Linked DNA regions of Homo sapiens. The protein of the gene in region 1 purifies or fractionates together with the protein of each later gene. This does not show direct contact. Each region holds a gene or a part of one and is shown in the gene's direction. Other genes may lie near its edges.

What was found.
Region 2: the proteins of HERC5 (region 1) and CGAS purify together in Homo sapiens (affinity purification with western blotting; 2 studies listed by BioGRID, with this or other methods). This does not show direct contact.

The regions. Positions count from the first base shown.
Region 1 is NC_000004.12:88,501,872-88,506,712, forward strand, and holds the end of HERC5 (E3 ISG15--protein ligase HERC5), read left to right. Parts: intron 1-2,360; coding exon 2,361-2,544; intron 2,545-2,623; coding exon 2,624-2,726; intron 2,727-3,801; coding exon 3,802-4,007; 3' UTR 4,008-4,292; downstream 4,293-4,841.
Region 2 is NC_000006.12:73,428,041-73,435,336, reverse strand, and holds part of CGAS (cyclic GMP-AMP synthase), read left to right. Parts: intron 1-6,525; coding exon 6,526-6,628; intron 6,629-7,296. UniProt on the Homo sapiens protein: Nucleotidyltransferase that catalyzes the formation of cyclic GMP-AMP (2',3'-cGAMP) from ATP and GTP and plays a key role in innate immunity.

The DNA.
Region 1 (4,841 bases):
CACTGCAACCTCCGCCTCCCGGGTTCAAGCGATTCTCCTGCCTCAGCCTCCTGAGTAGCTGGGACTACAGGCGCCCGCCACCACGCCCAACTAATTTTTTGTATTTTTAGTAGAGACAGGGTTTCACCGTGTTAGCCAGGATGGTCTCCATCTCCTGACCTCATGATCCACCCACCTTGGCCTCCCAAAGTGCTGGGATTACAGGCGTGAGCCACTGCGCCCGGCCTATCTGTAGTATTTTTGACCGACATAGTGTATTTCAAGTTTTGGACTATTATGAATAATGCTCTTGTGAACATTCTTGTACATGTGTTTTGTTTATGTGCAGGCATTTCTGTTGGTATGTAACTGGGAGAAGTGCTTGGTGCCTTGTGGTTGCCCCTTGCTCCATGCAGGCAGAATCAATGCTCCTACCTGAAATTCATTTGGATATTGATATGGATGATGCCATATGTAAGCCAGAGAGTATGAAAATGTTTAGTACATAATGGGGCTTTTTGGGGAGAGCTGCACAGGCATCCAAGCTGATCTGTTTGGCTTAAGTGAAGAGAGAGGCAGGTGGCTTTAGTTTTTATGGTGGTTCCGTGGGGCCAGGGTCAGGGTTCTCATGCAACCCAGAGCATGCGTGGGGAAATTTAAGCCACGCAGCCATCAGTGGGTGCCCAGGGAGTGAGCCTGTGTTGTGCAGATTTGGAGGCGAAAGGGGAAAAAGGAGGAGTGGGACTTGAAAGCTGTTAGTAAGCAAACATAAAAAATGGAGGCACACTTTCATCAGTAGGGTACGACAGTTCTAATTGCTCTATATCCACTCTAATAGTATTACTAGTCTTTTTTAAATTAGCCATTCTGGTGGGTATATAGTAGTATTCCATTGTGGTTTTAATTTGCATTTCTCTGATTACTAATGTTAAGCACTTTATATGCTTATTGGCTGTTTGGATATCCTCTTTTCAGAAATAATTATTCCTCATCTTTAGTCTATTTTTCTGTTGCTTTTTTTTTTCTTGTCAGTTTATGAGAGTTCTAGATGCAAGTCTTTTGTTGGTTATATGTACTGCAGATATCTTCTTACATACTGTGGCTTGTCTTTTCACTTTTTAAATGTGTCTTTTGATTAACCAAAATTTGTAATTGTAATGTAGTCTACTTTATCAATATTTTCCTTAATGCATAGTGTTTTTCTGTTTTCTATTTTATGAATACTTCCCTATCCTAGGGCTATGAATATATTCCCCTGTATTTTCTTCTAGAAGCTTATCATTTTATTTCTCACATTTAGATCTATGATCCACTTTAATTGATTTTTTAGTAAGATGCAAGGTATGGATCAGGTTTTATTTTTTCAATTTTTGAAACTGATTATACTGAACCTATAGATCAATTTTTTGAAAAAATTGACATCTTAAAATAATGAGGCTTTAATCCATGAATACAGAATCTCCATTTGTTTAAATCGTCTTTTGTCATTCTTGAAAAAATGTTAGGTAGTTTTCTATGTAGAGATCTTGTTGCAATATTCTAAATAGGTTTCTTGGATCATTTATTGTATTTGAATCTTCTCTGTCCTTAAAAATTTTTTTGTCTGCTTTTCTGTTAGTTACTAGGAGAGGTATATTAGCATCTATACTATACATGTGGATATGAGTGTTTCTTTAAGTTTCGTTATTACTAAGCACATAACAGATTTTTGAATTGTTTTACCTTCCTGGTATATGACTCGGTTGTCATTAGTAAATGTACTTTTCTATCCTTGTCTTGTTTGTCTGATTTTAGTATAGTTACACCACATTCATTTTGGTTGATGTTTGCATAGTGTATCTTTTTCCCTTCTTTGACTTTAATCTGTGTTTTCACATTTAAGTTATATATGTTATAAGCAGCATATGATGGAGTTGTTATAAAAATTACATTAGGGCCAGGTGCGGTGGCTAACGTCTGTAATCCCAGCACTTTGGGAGGCCGAGGCAGGCAAATCACAAGGTCAGGAGTTTGAGAGCAGCCTGGCCAACATGGTAAAACCCCATCTCTACTAAAAATACAAAAAAATTAGCTGGGCATGGTGGCAGGCACGTGTAATCCCAGCTACTTGGGAGGCTAAGGCAGGAGAATCTCTTGAACCCAGGAGGTGGAGGTTGCAATAAGCTAAGATCGCACCACTGCATTCCAGCCCAGGTGACAGTGCGAGACTCCGTCTCAAAAAAAAAAAAAAATTACATTAGATAATCTCTAGTAACTATGACAGTCCATGGCACATGGTAGGTACTCAATAACTGTTAGGTATTCTAGCTTTTATTTTTAGCCCCTCACCATTTTGTTCAGGATATTGCAGTAAGTGGAAATAACATTTTGTTTTATTAAAGGAGAGACTATGTTTCTAAGTATATCAATTACATTTTCAACGACTCTGTAAAGGCGGTTTATGAAGAATTTCGGAGAGGATTTTATAAAATGTGCGACGAAGACATTATCAAATTATTCCACCCCGAAGAACTGAAGGATGTGATTGTTGGAAATACAGATTATGATTGGAAAACATTTGAAAAGGTACATCATCAAGTCTAAGTTGATTAAATTCAGTTTTCCTTCCTATTTCCTCAATAACTTTTTTTTGTATTTTCTCTAGAATGCACGTTATGAACCAGGATATAACAGTTCACATCCCACCATAGTGATGTTTTGGAAGGCTTTCCACAAATTGACTCTGGAAGAAAAGAAAAAATTCCTTGGTAAGTATTATATCAAGGAATAGATCTGTAATCGTATGTCTTTTTAATGGGATAAAAATTTCCTTTATGATAAGTACCATTTGCAACAGATCATAGTGTCAGAGCTACGCCTAGTCCAACTGAACATCCTCTGTGTCCCAACATCAAAAAACAAATGTTAATATCTATAAGCAATCTTTTCCCCTGTGATTTCATCCCTTCTTATTGCTTTTAAAGTTTTCGTTTCTTCATCCAAGCTAAATATCAAGCCTTCTTTCTGTAGCCCTGTCATCATTCACTTATTCAGCCTTTTTGGGATTAACTAAAATATTTTATTTGGCTAATTTTTACTGTTCCTATATTATTAATACTATATTTGCTATTACTGTACACAGCTATTTTATTTGTATCTTTAGGCTTAATGACTTTCTCATTTTCTATTTCCTTACTTTTGAGAAATATTTATCTTCTATTTTTATTTTTGTGGATAACATGTATGTTAGAAGATATTCAGACTTAATAGAAGCCCAACCTACCTTTCCAGTCTTAACTCCTAGAGGAAATTTTTGTCCCAACCAAATAATCCCATTGTCTGAACACTCCTGAGCTCACCTTGCACCTTCCCACCTCCAGGCCTTTCTGTGAAGTTCCTTCTCCTGCCTTGAACCTCACCTACCTCCTTGTTGCCTTTCTAAACCTTTCCATCCTTAAAGGTCCGGCATAATTCTGAACTCTTGGAAATCCCCTCAGTCATCCCAGCCTGGCTCTCTCTCCTTATTCTCAAGCATAGCATTGACTCAGGAGGCACTTAACTCCATGACACCTCTTCGGGCTGTCTTATACCTTACAGCTTTTCTCTTGCTATTATGTGTCTTTTTCTTCACAAGAATCTAATATTCCCAGTCAGACTTTAAGCTGCTTGAGGACAGTGACTATGTGTCAGACATTGTTCGAATACAATCCCCAATGCACTGTCAAATGTAGGACACTGCACATGGGCTCCAGTGAAGTTTTGTGAATAAATAGATTTTTTTCTCTGTAAAGAGATTTTGGTCTCCATGTAAAACAGATTGCCTAATTTTATTCTTCTTTTTAGTATTTCTTACAGGAACTGACAGACTACAAATGAAAGATTTAAATAATATGAAAATAACATTTTGCTGTCCTGAAAGTTGGAATGAAAGAGACCCTATAAGAGCACTGACATGTTTCAGTGTCCTCTTCCTCCCTAAATATTCTACAATGGAAACAGTTGAAGAAGCGCTTCAAGAAGCCATCAACAACAACAGAGGATTTGGCTGACCAGCTTGCTTGTCCAACAGCCTTATTTTGTTGTTGTTATCGTTGTTGTTGTTGTTGTTGTTGTTGTTTCTCTACTTTGTTTTGTTTTAGGCTTTTAGCAGCCTGAAGCCATGGTTTTTCATTTCTGTCTCTAGTGATAAGCAGGAAAGAGGGATGAAGAAGAGGGTTTACTGGCCGGTTAGAACCCGTGACTGTATTCTCTCCCTTGGATACCCCTATGCCTACATCATATTCCTTACCTCTTTTGGGAAATATTTTTCAAAAATAAAATAACCGAAAAATTAACATAAAAGTCTTATTCACTATTCAATGTGTTTACCAGCTCTTTTGGAATTGCTATCATTGCATGTAAGATATATCAATTATAATATAGATTAAGCTGTGTCTCTCACACAATGTTTGCATGACTTGGCCTGAAGGGATACTCTTTACCTTAGAAGTTTTTTTAAAAAACTTGTAATTATCTACCCAATATCTGTTCTCCCCTTCTTTCAGTACAGATTCCCTATATGGTAGGAGTGGCATTGTTCTCAGTCTTAAAATCATACATTTCCCAGCCTCTCTTCAAGGTAGGGACAGGTGGCAGTGGTGACAGTTATTGGGAGAAGCTTCTGAGGAAGCTTTTTTATTTAAATGCTGTTATGCTTTTAATGGAGTTAGGTACAAAATGCATCCAAGCAAAAGAATGTTGTACATACTCATTAACATAGTGATAAATGTAAATTACACTTTGATAATGTAAAATACAGTGTGTTAGGCCCCAAAAAGAAACTACAAAGTTAGCTGCAACTGAAGATACTGGAAAGACTCCGTAGGTTTTTTTTTTTCTTTTTT
Region 2 (7,296 bases), on another chromosome or scaffold:
ATTCTTGCCAGTGAGAAAATGATATCTCAAAAAGTAAGAAATGATATCTCAGTGTAGTTTATTTAAAAATAAACTTTTTGTTTTAGCATAGTTTTGTATTTACAGAAAAATTGTGAAGATAGTACAGAGAGTTCCCGTATAACCCCATACCCATTCCCCTGGGGTTTTTTCTGGGGGAGGTAGTGGGGCAGAGTTTCACTATGTTGCCCATGCTGGTCTTGAACTGAGCTCAATGATCCTCCCACCTCACCTTATCAAGTAACTGGGACTACAGACACGTGCCACTGCAGCACCCCCATTTTCCTATTATTAATATCTCACATTAATACAATACATTTAATAATTAATAAACCAATATTGATATATTATTGTTAGCTAAGGGCTATATCTGCTGGGCACAGTGGGTCTTGCCTGTAATCCCAGCACTTTGGGAGGCCGAGGTGGGCAGATCACCTGAAATCAAGAGTTCGAAACCACCCTGGCCAACATGGCAAAACCCCGTCTCTACTAAAAAAATACAAAAATTAGCCAGGCGTGGTGGCATGTGACTTAGTCCCAGCTACTCAGGAGGCCGAGACAGGAGAATCACTTGAACTTGGTGGGTGGAGTTGCAGTGAGCCAAGATCATGCCACTGCACTCCAGTCTAGGAGACACAGCGAGACTCCATTAAAAAAAAAAATTATATACTTTATCCAGATTTCCTTAGTTTTTCTTAATGTCCTTTTACTGTTCCAAGATCCCATTTAGGATACCATATTGCATTTAGTTGTCATGTCTCCTTAAGCTACTCTTGACTGTGACAGTTTTTTGGTTTTAACAGTTTTGAGGAGTACTAGTTAGGTATTTTGTAGAATGTCCTTTACTTGAGATTTCTTTATTATGTTTCTTATGATTAGATCAGAGTTATTGGTTTGGGGGAGGAAGGTCACAGAGGCAAAGTGCCATCCTTATCAAATTTTATCAACGGTACGTGCCACCTTTCTTTACAGTCATGTACAGTTGACCCTCAGGATTGGCTCCAGGGTACCCTGCAGACACCGAAGTCCACAGATGCTCAAATCCCTTACATAAAATGATATAATACAGTTGGCCCTCCATATCTGTGGGTTTCAATTCACGATTGGTTGAATTCTCAGATGTGAAACCCTCAGATACAGAGGGCCAACCGTATTGTGTAGCTATCCCTGAACTCTTTATTCTGTCCCATTAAAATCTTTGTCTATCTTTGTACCATGTTGTTGTACATAATGTAGCTTTATAATTAGTCTCAATATCTTTTAGGGCAAGTTCTACCACTTCGTTTTTCTCCAAGGGTGTCTGAGAGAGTCTTGACCCTTTACATTCTCATATAAATTTTGAAATCAGCTTTTCAGATTCCACAAAATACTTTTTGGAATTTTGATTGAGATAATGTTGAATCTATAGATAAATTTGGGGCCAGGAATGATGACTTATGCCTGTAATTCCAGCACTTCAGAAGGCTGAGGAAGGAGAGTTGCTTTAGGTGAGGGGTTCAAGACCATCTTGGACAACACTGTGTAAAAACTCTAGCCAGGCGTGGTGGCTCACGCCTGTAATCCCAGCACTTTGGAAGGCCAAGGTGAGTGGATTACGAGGTCAAGAGATCGAGACCATCCTGGCCAACATGGTAAGACCCCATTTCTACTAAAAATACAAAAATTAGCTGGGCATGGTGGCACGTGCCTGTAGTCCTAGCTACTCGGGAGGCTGAGGCAGGAGAATCGCTTGAACCCAGGAGGCAGAGGTTGCAGTGAGCCAAGATCACGCCATTGCACTCCAGCCTGGTGACAGAGAGAGACTCCGTCTCAAAAAAAAATTAAAAAAAAAAAACTCTCTATAAAAGTTTTTATAGAGAGTTGTGAGTCTTCATCTCTATAAAAACTTTTTAAAAATTAGCCAGGCGTGGTGGTGTGCACTTGTAGCTTGTAGTCTTAGTTACGCAAGAGAATCACTTAAGCTCAGGAGTTCGAGGTTACAGTGAGCTATGATCTTGCCACTGCACTCCAGCCTGGGCAACATAACAAGACACTGTCTGTATTAAAAAAAAAAAACATGGGAGAGAGTTGATATGTTAACAATATTGAGTCTCCCAATCCACTTATTTACATCTCCTCTAATACTTCCCAGCTTCATTCATTAGCATTTTCTCTGCAGAGGTTTTGTATATCTTTTGTTAATTTATTCATAGGTAATTGATCTATTTTAAAACTATTTATTTATTTATTTATTTTGAGATGGAGTCTCGCTCTGTCACCCAGGCTGGAGTGCAGTGGTGCGATCTCGGCTCACTGCACCCTCCACCTCCTGGGTTCAAGCGATTCTCCTGCCTCAGCCTCCTGAGTAGCTGGGATTACAGGTGCCCACCACCGTGTCTGGCTAGTTTTTGTATTTTTAGTAGAGATAGGGTTTCACCATGTTGTCCAGGCTGCTCTCAAACTCCTGACCTCAGGTGATCTGCTCACCTCGGCCTCCCAAAGTACTGGGATGACAGGCGTGAGCCACCGCGCCTGGCCAAAACTTTTTATTATGAAAATTTTAAACCAGTACCAAAGGAGACTGGGCCAGGAGTGTTGGCTCATGCTTGTAATACCAGCATTTTGGGAGGCTGAGGTGGGTGGATCACTTGAGCCCAGGAGTTCAAGCCTGGGCCACGTGACAAAACCCTGTCTCTTCAAAAAATACAAAATAAATTAGCTGGGTGTGGTAATATGCACCTGTTGTCCCAGCTATTTGGGGGGCTGAGGTGGGAGAATCACTTGAGTCTAGGAGGTTGAGGCTTCTGTGAGCCGAGATCATGTCACTGCGCTCCAGCCTGGGTGACAAAGTGAAACCTTGTCTTAAAAAAATAATCAATGACTGGGAGCGGTGGCTCACACCTGTAATCCAAGCACTTTGGGAGGCCAAGGCGGGTGGGTCACCTGAGGTCAGGAGTGCGAGACCAGCCTGGCCAACATGGTGAAACCCCATCTCTACTAAAAATACAAAATTAGCCGGGCATGGTGGCGCATGCCTGTAATCCCAGCTACTCAGGAGGCTGAGGCAGGAGAATCACTTGAACCTGGAAGGCAGAGGTTGCAGTGAGCTGAGATGGTGTCACTGCACTCCAGCCTGGGCAACAGAGCGAGACTCAATCTCAAAAAATAAAAATAAATAAAAATAAATGTATAAACAAATAATAATTTTCTTATATTAGCTGGGCACAGTGGCTCACAGCTGTAATTCCAGCACTTTGGGAGGTGGGAGGATTGCTGGACCCCAGGAGTTTGAGATCAGCCTGGGCAAGGTGGAGAGACCCCGTCTCTACAAAAAAATCCAAAAATTAGCCAGCCATGGTGATGTATGCTTCTGGTCCCGCTATTGGAACGGCTAACATGAGAAGATTGCTTGAGGCTGGGAAGTCGAGGTTTCAGTGAGCTGTGTTCACGCACTCCAGCCTGGGTGATAGAGGGAGATCTTGTCTCAAAAAATGAAAGAAAAAAGTAATAATTCCCTAATATCAAACACCTATTCAGTATTAAAATTTCCGCTTGTCTTGTAAGTGTCATACTTTTTTTGTATGTTTGGATCAGTCTGTTTGGATCAGGATTCAAATAAGGTTCATACATTGTGACTGACCAATATGTCTGTTAAATCTCTTTTAACTCATAACTTCCTCTTTCATAACTTTTTTATTCCTTGAATAAAATTTACTCAATTTACTTCAATTTACTCATTGAAGAAACAGGTTATTTTTCCTGTAGAGTTTCCCAAAGAGAGTTTGTAGAGTGCATTCTAGAAGTGTCGTTTAGCATGTTCTGCTTTCATCCATATTTCTTTTTGTTGTTGTTGTTGTTTTGTTTTTTTGAGAGGGAGTTTTGCTCTTGTTGCCCAGTCTGGAGTGCAATCGCCCGATCTTGGCTCACTGCAACCTGCGCCTCCCAGGTTTAAGTGATTCTCCTGCCTTAGCCTCCAGAGTAGCTGGGATTACAGGCTTGTGCCACCATGCCCGGCTAAATGTTTGTATTTTTAGTAGAAATGGGGTTTCACCATGTTGGTCCGGCTGGTCTCGAACTCCTGACCTCAGGTGATCCACCGCCTCAGCCTCCCAAAGTGCTGGGATTACAGGAGTGAGCCACTGTGCCTGGCCTCATCCATATTTCATTAGCAGTTAGATCTAGAAGGTAACTGTTGGGTGTTTTTTTTTGTTTGTTTTTTGTTTTTGTTTTTGTTTTTTGAGACTGAGTCTCACTCTGTCATCCAGGCTGGAGTGCAATGGCATGATCTTGGCTCACTGCAACCTCTGCCTCCTGAATTCAAGCGATTCCCCTGCCTCAGCCTCCTGAGTAGCTGGGATTACAACTGTGTGCCACAATGCCTGGCTAATTTTTGTATTTTTAGTAGCGACGGAGTTTCGCCATGTTTGCCAGGCTGCTCTTGAACCCCATATCTCAGGTGATCTGCTCACCTCGGCCTCCCACGGTGCTGGGATTACAGGCATGAGCCACTGCACCTGGCCTAATTGCTAGTTTTTATACTATTGTAAGTAACATCTTTCTCAAAATTTCATTTTTTGTTTATTACCATATATCAAAATACCTTTGATTTTTGTATCCACAATCTTGGTAACTCTTTTAATTGATTTGGTGAGTTTATTTACATAATTTTTTTTTTCTTTTTTCATTTTCTTTCTTTTTTGAGATGGAGCCTCGCTCTGTTGTCCAGGCTGGAGTGCAGTGGCGTGATCTCGACTCACTGCAACCTCGGCATTCCGGGTTCAAGGGATTCTCCTGCCTCAGCCTCCCAAGTAGCTGGGACTATATACAAATACATACATACATGTGGTATGTGTAGGCACACGCCACCACACTGGCTAAGCTAATCTTTCTATTTTTAGTAGATATGGTGTTTCACCATGTTGGCCAGGCTGGTCTCCTGTCTCGGCCTCCTGAAGTGCTGGGATTACAGGCGTGAACCACCATGCCCAGCATTGTAGATTCTTTTGTATTTCCTATATATGCAATTACATCACCTATGAATAATGATGGCTTTGTTTCTCCCTTTCCAGTGTGTAACCCTGTTTTTCCTTCCCTTACTGTGCTTGCTATGACACCCAGTGCATGTTGAACAGAAATAGAGATAGCAGATGTTTTGCCTTCTTTCTGATTTCTCTCTCCAACTTTTTACCTCACATAATGATTGTTGCTATAGTTTTCTAAAATCTACCTTTTATGGAATCAAGTGTCCATCTAGACTTAGATTGCTAAGAGGTGTTTTTTTAATGATGAACGACTATAGGATTTTAAGAGCTTCATTTTCTTCATCTATTGAGACAATCATGTATTTCTCCTCTATTCTGTTAATGTGACAGATTATATTGATTGATTTTTCTGAAAAATCATTCAGATTATAAACTACTTATACTTTGCTAGTATAAAACCACGAAGTAACAGGGTGGTCAGAGCATAAAAGAGCTAGCCATGGTAAGACTCGGGGAGAAATTTTTTTTTTTTGAGACAGAGTCTTGTGCTGTTGCCCAGGCTGGAGTGCAGTGGCGCGATCTCCGCTCACTGCAAGCTCCACCTCCCGGGTTCGCGCCATTCTCCTGCCTCAGCCTCCCAAGTAGCTGGGATTACAGGCGCCCGCCACCACGCCCGGCTAATTTTTTGTATTTTTGGTAGAGGCAGGGTTTCACTGTGTTAGCCAGGATGGTCTTGATCTCCCGACCTTGTGATCCGCCCACCTTGGCCTCCCAAGGTGCTGGGATTACAGGCGTGAGCCACCGCGCCCAGGTGAAATCATTCTATATTTACACAAACTCTCATAAATAAGAATAAAGGAAATGGTCCCCAATTCATTTTGTATTAATATAAAACCTGTAAGGATGGTACAGAAAAAGTGAATAAATTGATTCAAATTATTATTGAAACAAAATATTTAACAAAGGGAATTTAGCAATATATAAAAGGTAATACATCTTACTATTGCTAACTATATTAAACTGTGACTTCCTTTTTTTTTCGGTTAGGCCCATTTTTTGTCTCAGTGTACTTATTTTTATACATAATTATTTATCTGTTCACTTCTTTTGATTCACTCCTAAGATTTTTTCAGAATATTTTCTTTTTCTTTCTTTCTTTTTTTTTTTTTGATGGAGTTTTGCTCTTGTTGCCCAGGCTGGAGTGCAATGGTGCAATCTCGGCTCACTGCAACCTCCACCTCCCAGGTTCAAGTGATTCTCCTTCCTCAGCCTCCCGAGTAGCTGGGATTACAGGCATGTGCCACCATGCCAGGATAACTTTTTTTTGTATTTTTGGTAGAGATGGGTTTCTCCATGTTGGTCAGGCTGGTCTCGAACTCCCGACCTCAGGTGACCCACCCTCCTCGGCCTCCCAAAGTACTGAGATTACAGGCGTGAGCCCCCATGCCCAGCCCCAGGATATTTTCATGAGGGAAACCACTTGAATATTGTTTAGATATGGATGCTTTGGGTAAAGTGCTTTTTTGTTTTTCTTTTTGAAATTAAGAAGAAACATGGCGGCTATCCTTCTCTCACATCGAAAAGGAAATTTTGAACAATCATGGAAAATCTAAAACGTGCTGTGAAAACAAAGAAGAGAAATGTTGCAGGTAACAGCCTTATTTTGTTAAATGACAGATTATCTATGGTATGCTTAATTATTTGTTGACTCCACACCTCAGACCTGAAGAGCTGAGCTGGGTTGGGTCTGGGGGGCAGGGCAGGATTGGGTTGAGCTGGGGAGAGTGTGAGTATGAAACCAGAGAAGCTAGATCCAAAGGGCCAAGGAAAGGGTGTTGTTAGAAGGCAAGGCCGGGGAATAGTAGTTCTGAACCCTGGATCAGATGAATGTGTTTTTGTATAGATGTATCAGTAGGACAGAGTGAGAGGGTATGAGCACTAGCCATGACAATTCGATGGGTCTTAGTATTCTGCTTGTTTAAAAGTAATGGATATTAATGCCATATAATTGGAGGAGGCCAAAAGGTCGCTCTTATTAGATACTGGGCTTGCTTTGGGATAGTTGGGTTGTGTTGACGGCTAGGGATTGATTGGCCAAACTGAAAACAACACTAAGTGAGTAATTTTTTTTTTTGAGACAGACTTTCACTCTGTCACCCAGACTGGAGTGCAGTGGCACAATTACGGCTCACCACAGCCTCGATCTCCTGGGCTCAAGCAATCATCCTACCTCAGCCCCCCAAGTAGCTGAGATTACAGGTGCATGCCACCATGCTCGGCTAATTTAAAAAAAAATTTTGTAGAGGGCCTGTTGGCT